2 linked regions of the Homo sapiens genome follow. The protein of the gene in region 2 interacts with the protein of the main gene of each other region in a pairwise test. Each region holds a gene or a part of one and is shown on either strand. Other genes may lie near its edges.

Region 1 (4,580 bases), on a different chromosome or scaffold from region 2:
AATAAGAGCATAAGATATCAGAAAATCAGTGGGCGACAGCTTCAGTGACCTAGTGTCACACAAACGTGGACTAAGACTTTCTCTCACCCATAACACTGCATAAGAACTATAAGGTATGCAACTTCTCAGCCAGGCGCAGTGGCTCACGCCTGTAATCCCAGTACCTTGGGAGGCCGAGGCGGGTGGATCATGAGGTTAGCAGTTCGAGACCAGCCTGGCCAACATGGAGAAGCCCCATCTCTACTAAAAATACAAAAATTAGCCAGGCATGGCGGTGGGTGCTTTTAGTCCCAGCTACTCCAGAGGCTGAGGCAGGAGAATCACTTGAACGTGGGAGGCGGAGGTTGCAGTGAGCAGAGACTGCGCCATTGCACTCCAGCCTGGGCGACAGAGCGAGACTCCGTTTCAAAAAAAAAAAAAAGATATGCAACTTCTCCACTCCAAATTCTGCTCGCTCTCTCTCTTTAAGGTCATGAAATCTCCCTTTCCTCTCTCATCGTGGGAAGCAAGGCATAGTACTTGGTTAGTTTTCCAACATAGGTCAAATGGATCCGTGAGTGATACTAAACGACGTATAATCAAGTATTATATCCAATGGATTCTGTGCTAGAAGAAGTCAGAACAACAGACTCTGTTTCCACTCTCGTCTCTGCGGTTACCTTGGCCAGATGGATGGGAGGTGCTTCTCCATCCATTGGATGGGCTCAGCACTCTTGGGGATGTAGAAGACCGTGATAGAAATAATAGTCCAAATATGTATTGGATATGACATTTCATTAGATCAGGTATGCAAAGTGCATGTCAGGTTCTTGCTGAGAGCTGGCCTTCTCTCTTTTTTTTAATTTATTTTATTTTATTTATTTATTTATTTTGAGATGGAGTCTCTCTCTATCACCCAGGCTGGAGTGCAGTGGCGTGATCTGAGCTCACTGCAACCTCCGCCTCCCAGGTTCAAGCAATTCTCCTGTCTCAGCCTCCTGAGTAGCTGGGATTTCAGGTGCACGCCGCCGTGCCTGGCTAATTTTTCTTTTTAATTGTATTTTAGTAGACATGGGGTTTCACCATGTTGCCCAGGCTGGTCTCAAACTCTTGAGCTCAGGCAGTCCACCTGCCTCAGCCTCCCAAAGTGCTAGGATTACAGGTGTGAGCCACTGCGCCCGGCCTGGTCTTCTCTTCTAATGCTTGCAGCAGCCTTCCTCAAAATTGTTACTATGAGGGTCACTGTCTTTATGGTACCCATTTTGCAGACGAGGAAAGTGCGACTTAGAGCATTTCAGTTAATTCCTTAAAGTCACCCAACAGCCCAGGCTGTCGAATTCCAGCAAAAGTCTCTTTCTGCCTCTGCCCTGCCACGCTACTGGCACAGAAGAGCTGTCTAATGCACTAGTCACTCACCACATGTGGTTTTCAAGCACTTGAATTGTGGCTAGTCCAACTGGAGACAGGCTGTAGGAGTAAAATACCCATCAGATTTCAAAGACTTAGTATGAAAAAAATATTGTGACCATCTCATTAATAGTTTTTATATTGACTACATGTTAAAATGATAATAATTTGGCTATTTAAGTTTAGGTTAGATATTTTATTAAAATTAAGTTCGCATGTTTCTCTTCACCTTTTTAAAGTGCCTACTTGACACTTTGAAATTACATATGTGTCTCACATTTCTAATGAACTTTGATACTCTACAATCTCAGAAACAACTCAGAGATGTCTCCCTCCCCTACCACCCATCCAACCACCAAAATACCCTGAGGACTCTTTGTCCTCAAGAATCTCTAAGGCAACCAGTTCAGAAGATTGTTGCAATGAATGATGAGGATTCTGCAATAATGAGCTGGAACATACCAGAGAGGAAAACCTGTGCAATTTTGTCCAATTATGGTTCAAGGGAAAAATCCTGTGATTTGCAATGAACACAGGCCTTGGTGGCTGCCATCGATGAAGGACTTTATGCTTGATAATCATTGTACCACATCCTCAACTTTCTTGCCTCTGATCTCAACAAACTCAGCATTGATTATACATCATCATCCCTGTGTGACGGAAGAGGAAACTAGGAGCTTGATGAGAAATGACAGCCAATGTCTGCAGATTCATGAGAGGGCAGGGCTGTATTCCGCTACTGGGTCCTATGCACCATGCAGAACCAGTGTCTTCACGTGGAGACTCATCACTGATCCGAAAGGTGACTGCTTCTGTATTACACTCATTTCCCCATGACCCATCATAAAGTCGTTAGGGCTCTTTTGCTTTCTCCTGAAAGCTTCAAACCAAACATCCTTTCCCATCCCGACTCAAGCCCTCAAGCTGATGCCCTTGCCTCTTGCTCCACCAGATTCTCCTCCTGCTGGCTCCTGCATCACTGTTCTCTGCCCTCATCTCTGTAACCAGAAAACAAGTGTTTCCATCCAAGAATTACCCTCTACTGGTCCCATAAAACTCATTCCCCCATTTACTCAAGAACTTCCCTCCTTCACTTATCCCTTCTCTCTCCTGCAGCCTCATAGTGTCTCTATATTCCATCATTCCCATCAGGACCCCAATAAAGTCTAGAGCCTATTTGTTTATTTATTTATTTACTTATTTATTTGAGATGGAGTCTCACTCTGTCACCTAGGCTGGAGTACAGTGGTGCAATCTGAGCTCACTGCAACCTCCACCTCCCAGATTCAAGCAATTCTCCTGCCTCAGCCTCCCAAGTAGCTTGAATTACAGACGCCCACCACCACGCCTGGCTAATTTTTGTATTTTTAATAGAAGTGAGGTTTCAACATGTTGGCCAGGCTGGTCTCGAACTCCTGACCTCAAGTTATCCACCTGCCTTGGCCTCCCAAAGTGCTGGGATTACAAGCATGAGTCACCGTGCCCGGCCTGTTTAGAACCTCTTTAAAAAAATTATTCTTCAACTCCACATCCTTCTTCAAACAAAGAGTCTATTGTGTTCACCAGTGTATTAAGTGTGTCTATGTCAAGCTACCCAGTCCCCCAGAATATGTTTCTTACCTGGACTGTTCACCAGCTGTGGTCTTGCTCTGGGTAGTTCTAGGTCTGGGTCTCCTGGGGAGAGTGACTCAGGCTCTAATGATTGCAGCAAAACATACACCAAGGAACAGGAGGAGGGGTAAAGGAACTAAAACCAGCTGGGTAGCAGGAAATAGGAAGTCTGAGCTTCTTCTGATTTTTGATGGCCCCAAGAATACACCAATATACTGTCTGCTTTAATGGCATTAGGACAGTGGGCTGGGCCTGTTTAGAAACTCATGTACCTGACTGTATTTCTCAGCCTCAGTCTCTGTGGGATGCAGAGGTTCAGTGCTCTCAACAACAAGGGCCAAGAAATCCAAGTGTCCGGGCCCCTGCTCCCTCCAAGGGTCAAGGTAAAGAAAGCAGCAAGCACTGTGGTGAGAAGAATCAGAGGGAGGCAATGAAAGGAAGAGAAGAAGTCATGAGGGATGGAGACCAGAAACACAGAGAGAGGTAAGGGAGTGGGGGAAGTTGAGACAGTTGGCAGGACAGCGCGTCCACACCCATGCACACCACCAAGATTAACCCCATAATCCTCTGATCTTGTGGAAGCTCATTTGTAGTCTTCTAGCCCAAAGAAATAACCGTTTTTCTGAAATGTTAAGCATCCTTCCAAGGGTATCAGAGTGATATGGAGAAATATGGTAAGACAGTTACAGAATCAGAGATAACGACACTGATTCTAAAAGCATTATTACCAAGGCATTGTTGCATTAAGACTGTTTTTTCTTTTCTTTTAGAGACAGTATCCTGCTACGTTGCCCAGGCATGTCTCAGACCCCTGGGTTTAGTGATCCTCCTGCCTCAGCCTCCCCAAATGCTGGGATTACAGGCATGAGCCGGGCTGTTTTTAATTCTAAGTAATTTATAATTTACAATTACACCTAACAATGGCTTCAACAAGGGGTGTCCAATCTTTTGCCTTCCCTGGGCCACACTGGAAGAAGAAGAATTGTCTTGGGCCACACATAAAATACACTAACACTAACGATACCTGATGAGCTAAAAAAAAAAAAAAAAAAAAAAATCCCCCAAAAATCTGATAATGTTTTAAGAAAGTTTATGAATTTGTGTTGGGCTGCATTCAAAGCCATCTTAGGCCATGGGCTGGACAAGCTTAGCTTAGAACCAAGACGAAATTTATGGTTTACTTTACAAGAATTTTGCAAGAGGGTAATACTAGGTTAGGTTATATCTGGAAAATATCATCAAGAACTACATTCATTTTAATCTTTTCTCTTTTTTATCCCTAATATGGTGACTTTTTTTCCTGGGGATTGCCACTTCATGGCTCCAAGAAAGCTACCACAGCTCCTGACTTCACATTACAGCAGGGGTCCCCAACCTCCAGGCCATAGACCAATACACAGACCGATACCGGTCTGTGGCCTGTTAGGAAGTGGGCTGCACAGCAGGTGACTGGCAGGTGAGCAAGAGAAGCTTCATCTGTATTTATAGCCACTCCCCATTGCTGGCATTACTGCCTGAGCTCTGCCTCCTGTCAGATTAGTGGCGGCATTAGATTCTCATAACAGTGTGAACCCTACTGTGAA
Region 2 (3,810 bases):
GCCCGGGTGACAGAGCCAGACCCTGTCTCAAACAAACAAACAAAAAAAAGCTTTCTGAGCCTCAGTTTTAACACCTGTAAGATGAGTGTGAAACTCCATCTGAAGCCCCCCAGTCTCCTCCTATAGGTTTTTGATTTAGGCCTCCCAACAAATCAAGTATGACTGAAATCCACTAAATGTCTCGAACTATGGTCTGATATCCATCAGAATCACTAGGCTTGGGTCAGGGCGAGAGGTCCTCATTCAAATGCACATTCTAAGGTCTCAACTGCAGACCTGCTGAGTCACAAGCCCTGGGGTGGGGCCCAGGAATCTGCATTTTAACAAGTCCCCTGGTGCACAAGGAAATTTGAGACCCACTGTGCCCGACAGCTTGTGCACATGGAAATTTGTTCTGCCAAAGTTTCTCAGATAAAAACAGAGAGGTTCTAGCCACTGTCAGGTCAAAGCTCTGGAGAGCTGTGCCATCTCCCAAAGGGAGCAGAACGGTTTGCCATCAAGCCAGGCAAGAGCCCATTTCTGCCTGTGCAGCTCGCAGTCTCCGAGCCTGCTGTTGTTTCATATCTTGATTGCTTATCACTCACCCAAAATAACCTGAATGCAATCGCACCAGCTGCAGCTCTCTCTGCAACTCCCTTAATTTAGCAGCCAAACACATTGGGTTCCTTCACAGAGCACAAGGCCTCAGCACGGGGCCCAGGAAGGGGCCCCTCCCTCCCAGCTGTCTGTAGTGAGTTGAATCATTTCCCCCTGGAATTCATGTCCACCTGGAACCTGAGAATGTGACTTTATTTGGAACTAGAGTATTTGCAGGTTTAATTAATAAGGATCAAGATAAGATCACACAGGATTAGGGTGGGCCCTAAATCCAATGACTGTTGTTAAAAGAGGAGAGAACAGAAGAGACAGAGACTGGAGTGATGCAGCAATAAGCTGGGGAATGCCACGGACTGCCCACTGCCGCCACAAGCTAAAAAGAGCCAAGGAAGGATTCTTCCCCAGAGCCTTCAAAGGGACCACAGCCCTGCCAACACCTCCATCCCAGATTTCCAGCCTCCAGAACTGTAAGGGAATCAAGTTCTGCTGTTTCAATCCACCAGGTTTGTGGTAATTCGTTAGAGCATCCCTAGGAAACCAACACAGCATCACTGCCATAGGCCCCCGGCCTGGCTCAGCGCCCACTCAGCCCCACTCTGGCGGGAAGGAAAGGGCCCCACCTGCAGGCGATTCTCCAGATGGGCAGTTTAACGTGGCCTGTTAGGATCAGAGCTAGTTTCTCCCAACCGACATCTTTGAATTCTGCATCTACTAGGCCCATTTCCCACATAAGGAGAAGGACCCTTCTGTCCTCTGCTTGAAAGGCTGTATTCCAAGAAGGGCTGAGTTTGGTAGTGACAAATACTGGTCCTTGGGCAGTGTCTGGCCGGCGGTGCCATGCAAGATGAGTCCCTACAGCTTCATGCCACTCCGGCGCCGTGAGTCCTTCCGGGCAATGGGGCTGAAGTTCACAATCTCCTTGTAGATGTGCTCTGAGAAAGGCAGCATGGTTTAAGGTGCGTAAAGAGGTGCTGTGGCGAGAAAGTCCACCCCCCTTCAGAGACAGCATGGAGAGCGAAGTCAGCTCAAGGAGAAAGAAGCACCCAGGAGACAATGCCCACCAAGAAGGAGGTGGCAGGTAGGGCTGGCAGAGGCCAGGCACAAAGATGGAGGAAGCAAGGAAGAGAGGCTGCAGGCGGAGGCGAGGAAGCCCGAGGCCCCAGCTCTTACGCTTCCATTCATCCACTGTGAGTTTCTCGTGTTCTAAGGAATCATCAAACGGCTGCTGGGCCTCCGTCTCTTCCTCAGGGTCCCGGAAGGGTTCAAAGAAGGGATGGGTGAGGGCCTGCGCGGCCGTCAGGCGCTTGTCCACGTCTAGCTCCAGCATCTTCTCCAGCAGGTCCGCAGCTGCAGGGGCAGAGCCAAGAGCCTCACACCAGGGGCTGGGAGAGCCCGCCCTCTGGGATACGCTGAGAGGCCCCTGGGGAGCGGGCTCTGAGACTCACCCTGGGGGCTGGCCCGTGGGAACAGCTGAGTGAAATCCTTCCTGGGGGTCTGTGGCAGGGACTGGATGTAGGATTTGGCCTGGAAGACAGAAAAGCATCAAACCCCTTAGGGCTCTGGCCTCAGCGTGTAGAGCAGGGATTTCAGAAAAGCCTCAGAGCAGGGCTGAAAGTTCAGGTCAGGGTCCACGGTGAGATTAAGACAAGAGTGCCTGCCAGGGTAGGAGGATGCTGTGGGAAGGTGCTGGTGAGCCTTCTTCCACAAAGGCCTGCAGCCCACTGGGCCCACGTCAGGCAAGCACACAGCCCAGGCCAGCCTAGGTCCCATTTACCACCCACCGCTTTGTCGTTCAGCTTCTGCACAAACTCCGTGCCAGGCACCCCGGTCACTTTCAGGATCTGGGTCAGCTGGTCCAGGTCTTGGTGGCAGGTTAAGGCTTAGCCTTGCTCTCCTGGTGGGTCTGAGACTGCCCTTCCTGCGACCCCACCATCACTTCACCCGGGCACCATGGCAACTGATCATCCAGGCTCCAGCCCTGCCTAACCACCTCCTGCTCTCAGGAGGAGGCTTATTCTTCAGGGCTCAGGGCTCTGGAGAGCTTTCCAACGTGCCAGGCTGAGGGGGGTCCCTACCCAACAAATGGATGTGGACTTCTCAGCCTTCATCCCAGTGACTCTTTTCTGTTTCCTCGTCTTCTCACCAAAGGCCTGCCCTGCACACACAGGTACTCAGTTAATGTGTGCCGTGCCAAAATGTATTTTCCACGTAGTGGTAGAATTTTTCATCATTTTGCTTATCTACATTTTTTTTTTTTTTTTTTTTTTGAGACAGGGTCTCACTCTGTCACTCAGGCTGGAGTGCAGTGGCACAGTCTTGGCTCACTGCAACCTCCACCTCCTGGGTTCAAGCGATTTTCCTGCCTCAGCCTCCCGAGTAGCTGGGATTACAGGCGTGAACCACACCCGGCTAATTTTTGTATTTTTTGGTAGAGATGGGGTTTGACCACGTTGGCCAGGCTGGTCTCGAACTCCTAATCTCAGGTGATCCGCCTGCCATGGCCTCCCAAAGTGCTGGGATTATAGGTGTGAGCCACCATGCCCACCCAACATTTTGTTTTTTTTTTTTTTTTTTTTGAGTTAGGGTCTCCCTCTGTCACCCAGGCTGGAGTACAGTGGCACAATCATAGCTCACTGCAGCCTCAACCTCCCAGGCTCAACCCTCCCACCTCAGCCTCTCAAGTAGCTGGGATTTTTCTTTTTCTTTTTTTTGAGACAGAGTCTTGCTCTGTCACCCAGGCTGGAGTGCAGTGGCGCGATCTCAGCTCACTGCAAGCTCCACCTCCTGGGTTCACGCCATTCTCCTGCCTCAGCCTCCTGAGTAGCTGGGACTACAGGCGCCTGCCACCACGCCTGGCTAATTTTTTGTATTTTTAGTAGATACGGGGTTTCCCCTTGTTAGCCAGGATGGTCTCGATCTCCTGACCTCATGATCTGCCCGCCTCAGCCTCCCAGAGTGCTGGGATTACAGACATGAGCCACTGCGCCAGGCCCATGTCTGGCTAATTTAAAAAACTTTTTTAGAGATGGGGTCTCCCTATGTTGCCACATCTGGTCTCAAACTCCTGGGCTCAAAGGATCCTTCCACCTCAGCCTCCCAAAGTGCTGGGATTACAGGCATGAACCACTGCGTCCAGCCTTATCTGCATTTACAAATTATTCTACAGGGAGTATGTATCACTCTCACATTAAGAAAAAAAAGACAGTTATTTAA

Evidence for each region.
Region 1: the proteins of MAPK13 (region 2) and FPR1 interact in binary tests that used the Homo sapiens proteins (3 or more experiments, as listed by UniProt).

Annotation. Positions count from the first base shown.
Region 1 is NC_000019.10:51,748,808-51,753,387, forward strand, and holds the start of FPR1 (fMet-Leu-Phe receptor), read right to left. Parts: upstream 3,072-4,580; 5' UTR 3,007-3,071; intron 1,447-3,006; exon of another isoform or gene 1,396-1,446; intron 1-1,395. UniProt on the Homo sapiens protein: High affinity receptor for N-formyl-methionyl peptides (fMLP), which are powerful neutrophil chemotactic factors. Binding of fMLP to the receptor stimulates intracellular calcium mobilization and superoxide anion release.
Region 2 is NC_000006.12:36,137,013-36,140,822, reverse strand, and holds part of MAPK13 (mitogen-activated protein kinase 13), read right to left. Parts: intron 2,459-3,810; coding exon 2,379-2,458; intron 2,122-2,378; coding exon 2,043-2,121; intron 1,945-2,042; coding exon 1,768-1,944; intron 1,530-1,767; coding exon 1,450-1,529; 3' UTR 1-1,449. UniProt on the Homo sapiens protein: Serine/threonine kinase which acts as an essential component of the MAP kinase signal transduction pathway.